Regions from separate parts of the Homo sapiens genome. Here region 1 is linked to region 2. The links come from fine-mapping of genetic effects on gene expression. A gene starts in region 2. The other region holds a variant in brackets. All regions are shown on one strand. Distances are between the middles of the regions.

The links. PIP is the estimated chance that this variant, and not a neighbour inherited with it, causes the effect.
Region 1: its variant is the best candidate, but not a certain one, in a credible set for the expression of BPNT2 in pancreas (GTEx, PIP 0.71).

Annotation. Positions count from the first base shown.
Region 1 is chr8:56,938,686-56,943,084 of GRCh38, forward strand. No RefSeq gene overlaps it. Among named protein-coding and RNA genes, the nearest start is that of BPNT2, 53 kb to the right of the region's middle. The variant G/A (reference allele first, on the strand shown) is at 2,028.
Region 2 is chr8:56,991,183-56,995,581 of GRCh38, forward strand. BPNT2 (3'(2'), 5'-bisphosphate nucleotidase 2) reads right to left here and starts at 2,685. Exons shown (of 5, transcript NM_017813.5): 1 at 2,017-2,685. The coding sequence starts at 2,403. RefSeq lists a silencer at 2,242-2,801.

The DNA.
Region 1 (4,399 bases), 52 kb before region 2:
AATGAAATAAAGCGAGAAGACAAGATTAGAGAAAAAAGAGTGAAAAGAAATGAACAAAGCCTCCAAGAAATATACTTCTCAGAAGAAGACATTTATGCAGTCAACAGACATGCGAAAAAATGCTCATCATCACTGGTCATCAAAGAAATGCCAATCAAAACCACAATGAGATACCATCTCACACCAGTTAGAATAGCAATCATTAAAAAGTCTGGAAACAACAGATGCTGGAGAGGATGTGGAGAAATAGGAACGCTTTTACACTGTTGGCAGGAGTGTAAATTAGTTCAACCATTGTGGAAGATGGTGTGGCGATTCCTTAAGGATCTAGAACTAGAAATACCATTTGACCCAGCGATCTCATTACTGGGTATATAACCCAAATATAGATTATAAATCTACGCTACTATAAAGACACATGCACACATATGTTTATTGCAGCACTATTCACAATAGCAAAGACTTGGAACCAACCCAAATGTCCATCAATGATAGACTGGATTAAGAAAATGTGGCACATATATACCATGGAATACTATGCAGCCTTAAAAAATGATGAGTTCATGTCCTTTGCAGGGACATGGATGAAGCTGGAAACCATCATTCTGAGCAAACTATCACAAGGACAGACAACCAAACACTGCATATTCTCACTCATAGGTGGGAGATGAACAACGAGAACACATGGACACAAGGCGGGGAACATCACACACTGGGGCCTGTTGGTGGGTGGGGACTTCGAGGAGGGATAGCATTAGGAGAAATACCTAACATAAATGTCAAGTTGATGGATGCAGCAAACCAACATGGCACATGTATACCTATGTATCAAACCTGCACGTTGTGCACATGTACCCTAGAACTTAAAGTATAATTAAAAAATAAAAAGAAAATAGCATTGTTACCATTGTCCCTAAAATTTTTCATCTTACTCCCAATTCTCCAAGAAATACAAATGCCAAGGCTGTTAAATAACTCCCACTTAGCTTTCCCTTTTTTTTTTTTTTTTTTTTTTTTGAGACAGTCTCGCTCTGTCACCCAGACTGGAGTGCAATTGGCATGATCTTGGGTCACCTCCGCCTCCCGGGTTCAAGCGATTCTCCTACCTCAGCCTCCCAAGTAGCCGGAATTACAGGCATGCACCACCACACCCAGCTAATTTTTTGTAGTTTTAGTAGAGATGGGGTTTCTCCATATTGGTCAGGCTGGTCTTGAACTCCCAACCTCAGGTGATCCGCCCGCCTTGGCCTCCCAAAGTGCTGGGATTACAGGTGTGAGAGCTTTCCTTATAAATACTTTTATTAAATACTTTTATTCTTACACAAATTCTTCCTTCCTTGTCTCAGAGAATAAGATTTCTTCTCCTTTCCTGAGTCAGCCCATCTGTGCTTTTAAAACTACTTCCACTTCTTTATGATCTTACTCTACAATTGTTTATCTTTTTCTCCAGCACCTTCCTCTTCTCTCTTCAGGTTATTTTAAGTCAATAAATATTTATGGAGCACCCCTCTGTGTCAGGTACCATGCTGGTCACTGAGAATATAAAGAAGAGTAACATGCATCCCTACCATTTCTAGGGGAGGAGAAAAGGGCTTCCCACTGCCTGAGAACATGGTGGAGAGACAAGAGTTTTTCACTGTGGCCCTTGCATGTCCTTGTTCCTGTAGCTGGTGTGAAAGGAAAATAAATCTTGGGGCCCCAGGCTCACTAAGCCAAAGTGAAAAGTCAAGCTGGGAACGGAGTCACACAAAGCTGCCTCTCCTTTTTTTCTTAAATAAGATAGGTACAGAGATAAAAGAGCTACATACCTCCCTCACCATGTGCCCACAATGGGCTCCAAGATCTTTACCCTAAAACAGCTTTGTTGAATTTCATCCTGACAATGTAAGTTGATAGCTTATTTATCTTCACAAGCATGGAACAAAGGACAGAACTTAAAGTCATCCCTCTGCTCACCTGAGACAAATGTATTGCTTCCTCTGCCCTATGTTTATTTTATCTTACATAAAAATGCAGTTTCACTGAGC[G/A]AGAAAAATGCATAAGTGACTATTTCTGTACTTCTTTCTCACATGTAAGATGTGTATTCAATAAATGGTGATCAAAGACTCAAAAGAATGCAACTGCTTGCCTCTTATCTACCCACACCCTTATAAACTTTTTTTACTCTTTTCCCAATATATGCCCTTTTCTCTTAAAATATTGAGGTCCCAGACCCTCTTTGGAAAAAGCATGAACCACAGTTTTTCGTATGGTTCCATGTCTTTTTCCCAGGTGCATCCTTAACCTTGGCGAATAAGCCTTTTAAAATGATTGAGACTCACCACTGTCTTTGATTTACACTGACCAATAAAATCCAAATTGCCCAAACAGTGGCTGCACATCCACAGAACAATCCCTTCCTTCTCAGAGAATCATCCAAGTTAAACTAGTTAAACTTTCACAAAATGCCTCTTGCCCAAGTCTTGTAAAACATTTCACTCTTGTTCCCTTAGTTAGACCGCTCTCTCAGGGCCTTCTAGTCCCTGGGATTTTTGAAGAAAGCCCTATGCTAATGGTAGTGTTGATTTTCACAATTTTTGATGCTGTGACTTAGATAGGGCTTGACCCTGCTACTCAGCATCAGCACAAGACAGCAACTTTAGAGAGACTGTTTAAAGAACAACCACAATTACATGAGGTCAAATCCTTTTAACAAGTTCCTTATTGTATATATAATTTTTTTTTTTTTTGAGATGAAGTATCGTTCCTGTTGCCCAGGCTGGAGTCCAATGGCGCTATCTTGGCTCACTGTGACCCTCCACCTCCCAGGTTAGCGATTCTCCTGCCTCAACCTCCCAAGTACCTGGGATTACAGGTGCCTGCCACCACGCCTGGCTAATTTTTATATTTACTAAAAATATATCTACTAAAGAGATGGGGTTTCACCATGTTGGCCAGGCTGGTCTCAAACTCCTGACCTCAGGCAATCTGCCCACCTCGGCCTCCCAAAGTGCTGGGATTACAGGCATGAGCCACCTTGCCCGTCCTTTTATATATACTTTTATATAAATGTACATAATATATATTCCTAGTGGTTTTGCTTTTCTGATTGAATTTGAATTGATACAGAATTTGGCACCAAGAAAGAGTTTCAGATGGACAACATCTTAAGGACAAGTTCTTTGAATTGAATATGGAGTTGGTTTTCAATTTGATTAGACTTGAAGGCATTAATGACCCTGTTTCCAGCGGCAAAGGGGCAGAACATGGCAATCAGTTGCAAAAGTCATGCAAATTTTTAACTACATTTACCCATAGAAGAGAAGTCTCTTGGGGACAAAGTATTTACTACTCTAGAACATTTTAGCAAAATGCAGAGTAAAATGGAGTAGGTTGGTTTCTTCTAAATGTGCTGTAGAACTTAGGGGGAAAAAAATGAGTTCAGGGCTTTAAATTCCCAGGTTAATATCTGCATAAGGACCTGAAAAGCTCCTATGACTGCCTTAAAAACAATACGGGCCAGGGGCAGTGACTCACGCCTGTAATGCCAGCACTTTGGGAGGCTGAGGTGGGAGAATTACTTGAGGCCAAGTGCTCAAGACCAGCCTGGGCAACATAGTGAGAATCTGTCTCTACAACATTTTTTTAAAATTATCCAAGTGTGGTGGCACGTACTTGTAGTCCTAGCTACTTGGGAGGCTGAGGTGGGAGGATCACTTGAACCCAAGAGTTTGAGGTTAAAGTGAGCTATGATTGTGCCACTGTTCTCCAGCTTGGGTGACAGGGCAAGGTCTTGTCTCTAAAATAAATAAAAAACTTAAAAAAAATTCTTATCTCCTGTGACTACAGAACTGAGATTCTGAAAAACGAATTCAAAGTTTATCTTGCTGGTGGGTGAATTACAAGGCAAACTGAATACTCAAACTTGCATGGTCTATTTTGTTAAAATTAGGGCAATGATTGGGAAGGAATGAGATTCTAAAAATTGGGATTGGGTCATATGGACAGATTCTGATAAATCTGGAGACCTTGTACCCCCAAATTCCACCAAGCCTTCTTTGCACTTCTACTGCTGCTGCCTGAAGAACTCTAATAACTTTCACTTGGCTGCTTTACAAAGGGCTGCTGGTGCTCTCCAGGACATACTCCCACCACAGGTCCCTGAGGGCCTCAGAGGGTGAGACTCAAAATGTGGCCTGTAATGAGATGCAATGAACACCAAAATAACTGCATGATTTTCCAACTTATATTGACATAAACCTGAGGAATATATGTTAGAACTGATCTTCAGGGTGTGGAATCAGAGTAGAGAAAATACAATGTTGGATCAATAAATAAAGACACACCCAAGACTGGCTAATTTATAAAGGAAAGAAGTTTAATTGACCTACAGTTCCACATGGCTGGAGAGGCTTCATAA
Region 2 (4,399 bases):
CACCATCCCTACTTTGACACTGTATAAATGATCACAAACCTCTTCTATTCCTTCAGTCATGACCCAACATGAATACTACAGAAGCACATGCAAACATTCAAATAGTCACAAGAAAACAAGAAGTTGTTTTATATTAAGCCAGAGACTTCAACATCTGCAATTCCAAAAGCTTAGCTTTTATGTTAATAAAATGCAGCTCACTGCCCTTGGCAGCCATTCCCTTATTGTTTGCTAATAAATGAGAATGCACACACATACAGATGTGTTTTCAACATTTAAGATACTTTTGTTTTTACTTAAAAAAAGAAAAATCAACTCTGCTTGCTGTATTTCACTATTACTGCTTTTAAGCTTCTACAATTATAAGTTTTAAATAGCCTTCTAAAAATCTAGCTAAAATGTGGGATAGTTCATATAAGCTGGAGTGTCACGAGCCTCAGATTTCCCGTTTGTATAGTAGGCAGAAATAAAATTTACTTCTTAAAGTTGCTGTTAAGGATCAAATGAAGTCCTGTGTAGCCAGTATTTGGGCATGTAAAATATATTCAATAAATGGTTATTATTAGTACTGTTATAACCATTAAATAGCAACTTCTCTGAATCTCCTGTTTCCTCTATAAATTCTTGGGGAAGGAAACACGTATGTTTTGGAAAGGGGGTAAAATATTTCATAAACACACCTTACATCTAGATGCAAAAAAATTTAAGTATTATTTGTGATGATAAAAACAGAGTAGGGAAGAAGAAAAAGTGGAAATATTCTGTGTTTTAAGTAGAAATTTGAAAAAAAAAATTCTAACGTTAATTACATCTGGTATCCAGTAGCTCATGTTAGGAAATACAATGTTCCTTTCCACTGGAAAAAGAAAAAGACGAAAGAAAAGGGAGGAAGAGAGGAGAATAAAAAACAAAACCAAAGCAATATTATGATAGACTGGAAGAAGCCTTATGCAAAATACATAACTAAACAATGACAATATTCTCCTAACTCTTTCAAGATCAGCAGTAAAAGGTCAGTCACCTTCCAAAGAAGCCTGGGTTTGCACATCACTGTTTATCTAATAAAATTCCAGTGAAGACAATTTTTCTTCCCAGTAGCCAAAACTACAGTTAGGTGAGTTAAGATATACGTTAATAAGGTGCTGCTACGCTATGCTGAGCTCTTCCTCAACAAAATTTGCAGTTTCTGGAACTGCAAATTTTAAATATGCTTTATTCAACTCAATAGCAGCTCCAGTGAAATGATGAATTCAAAAAGTATTAATAACAAATCCAAAATGTCTGGATTTCCTTAAGAAAATGTCAACTCCCTTCCCAGAAACCTACCCAAAGAAAAGCCAAATGTTATTTAATTCTTATTCTCTGGAGTAAATATGGATCTTTAATCAAGGGCCAGGTAGGACCAACAGCTGGTATATTTCTAAGTACCTCCTTAAAGGGCCCGCAAACTATAAACTTTAGAGCGTCCTGACAAAAAGACAGCGAAATGAGCATACTCATCCCCCACCCCCCCACCCCGACTCCCGCGAGCGCACACACGCACACACAAATGCCCCGCACACTAACAGCTCTGCAACAAGACTCGGTCTTTCAGCTGGCTACTGGCAGGCCACCCAGAAAATGTGTACTCCAGTTTCGACCCTTCTAGGGATGAAATCAAGGAAGGATAGAGAGTCTTGGTGGATTTTAGCCAACCCCTTAATTCTACAGAGGAGCCTGAAGCTGCGGGTGCAATTAACTTTGTCAGCCTTTTCGTTTCAAGGCCTTCTGATCCCAGGTACACACGGCGCACACCCGACCCAGGACGAGCCAAAAGGGCACGGGCCCTGAGTCAGACTACGTGCAACCTCACCCAGCTCCTCTGCTGTCTGTCTGACCTTGTGCACGTTAACTTCTGCGTCTCAATTTCCACATCTACAAAATGGAACCAGAAGCTCCACATCCCATACTGTTAAGAGTCGACGGGCCGAGACGCGCTACCCGGCTCGAGTGGGCGCTCCGCCCGTGGGCTCCCACCTGGACGCTGGGGAAGGCGGTCTTGAGCAGGTAGAACATCTTGCGGTTGGACAGCACGTCGCCGCTGGTCATCTTGTCCTCGGCTCCCTCGCGCGTCTTCCCCTTGGACTTCTCGTGGAGGACGTTGCTCTCGCGGACGCGCCTCACCTCGTCGCCGCCGCGGACTGCGGCCAGCACTGACACAGCCAGCATCTCGCGCAAGTCCACGGTGCCCCCATCGGCCGCGGCCGCGGGCCCCGCCGCGCCGCCGCCAGGCTCGCCGCCCAGGCCGAAGAGGCTGAAGCGGCCGGCCAAGAAGCCCGAGTAGAGGTGGTAGAGCACGCCGAGCCCCAGCAGGCAAAACACTGCCACCCCCAGTGGGGAAAGGCGGATGCCCATGGGGGCCATGGCGTGGGAAGCCGGGCGCTCCGGGCTGCGGCTCTCACAGGCCTCCAGCGCCCGCCGCCGCCGCCGCCGCAGCCGCCGCGCTCCGGGCCAGGCGCCGCGCGGGCTACACTGGCGCCCGCTCCCCGGCCCCGGTGCGCCCCATCACTCCCTCCCAGGAAAGGCCGAGTTGCGCCGCGAAGACCACCAACGCCGCCCCGCGCGCCTGACTCGCCAGGCAGCGCGCTCTAGGTTCTTCCGCCGGCCGGCTGGTCCGACTTCCACGTTAGCCTACGGCCGCGAGGTGAAAGGGGAGCGTGGGTGTGTATCCGGGTTACGCGACGGGGCGGGGCGAGGGCGAGGGCGAGGGGCGGGGAGAGCTGGGCACCTCCCCTTGGGGCGGGGCGGGGCGGGACAGGAGGCGCTGGACTGAGCTGCCTTCCTTGGTCTGGGTGGGAAGGTATTCCTGGAAGTGGCGAGCAGCAATCCGCACAGGACAGTGTGCTGTGCTGAGTGCCTTGTGGGTGTTTAAATTAAATATCCCATTGTACGACTATGGCTGGCTGTAATAAACCCACAGTAACAGTCTAGTCTTCTCATCACTCTCAGATTATTGAGGAATGGAGGAAAACACAATAAACCATTTTAAAAGATTGATTTGCAAGCTTTTTTAGCCAGCGGGGGTGTAGACAGCCTGTACCTTTAAGTCGCTTCTCCGCGCTCTTCCCGGCAGGACGGGGAACTGGGCGGTGAGGGGAAGAATTGTACTTGGCTCTTCATTCTGTTGACATCTTTGTCGTGCCCTAAATGCTTATGTGTGTATAGAGTTTCTCTCCTCCACCTGCCAGAATAAACCATCCTCGAAGCAGCTGAAAAACATGCCTTGATCCGGGTTTTTCATAATGAAAGAAAGCAAACCAGGCTTCTCTCATTTCCAAGGGTACTCGAGCCTGGCTCTCCTACCAGAGCTTAAGAAGAGGAATTGCTTGACAGAGTCCACTTAAAATAGAGGTTATCCGGAGATGGTCAGTCTAGAACATGTAATCTTTGAGTCAGCGTAGGCTCTCGAAGTATTTTGACAGAAATAACTACCTTCTACTATAACACCGATCTTAGCTAGAATGATAGTGAATACTTTATAAGTATTCATGAGTTTATCTTTAATCTTAAAAGTGAATATTAAGATGTATAGTATTGTTCTTAAATGTTAAAATATCTATATAAATCAACTTAAAATGTAGCCTGTTTTACTGTTCATAGCAAAACAGCATTGGTTTTAAGTGGACTTTAGAATTAACCACCTGAAAAACTGCAAGTATACCAAACTTCTAAACATCCATTGCTAAGCAAGTCATGTAGAGCCTGACCTTTACCGCTTACTTAGAGTTCAGGGCATCCCTAGAATTTGCATGTGATTATACACATACAACAAAAGCACTGCCAGATTATACACATACAACAAAAGCACTGTGATTTCCCTGCCAGAATCACAGCACAAAATCAAGTACAAATACAAATCAGTGAAAGAACAATCCCTAGAGTATTGACAGCACCAGAACTTAAAGAACTAGCATTGCCTTTCTTGTCAGCTTTTGAGAGTAACTTTGCAATGAAGCAAAGCTGCTTTCAAATATCTAAAAGTGAATGTCACAGAGTAATTCTCAAAACCCATCCCAGGGATAAAGATAAACATCAGGGTTGAAATATAAAGGTTTAAGTTAAACAGAACCACCCCAACCTACACTATGACAGCAGCAAAAAGATGAGTTGGATAGTAATCATGTCAATATTAAAAGCATCATTGGGAAGTCTGAGATTTCTCAAAATAAACGGAATAATATTTTCCAAGGATATTGGAGAATAATATAGGGTCACATTCAGTGTGGCAGTATACACAGTATACCACTGAGGGAAATACTAAAAGCTCTGGAGCATTTCTACTGCAAAAAAGGGATTTAAGACTTGAGGGAGAAAATGCCAAGGTATGTGGAAAGAAGGAGTCACTTGAAAGATTGTAGCT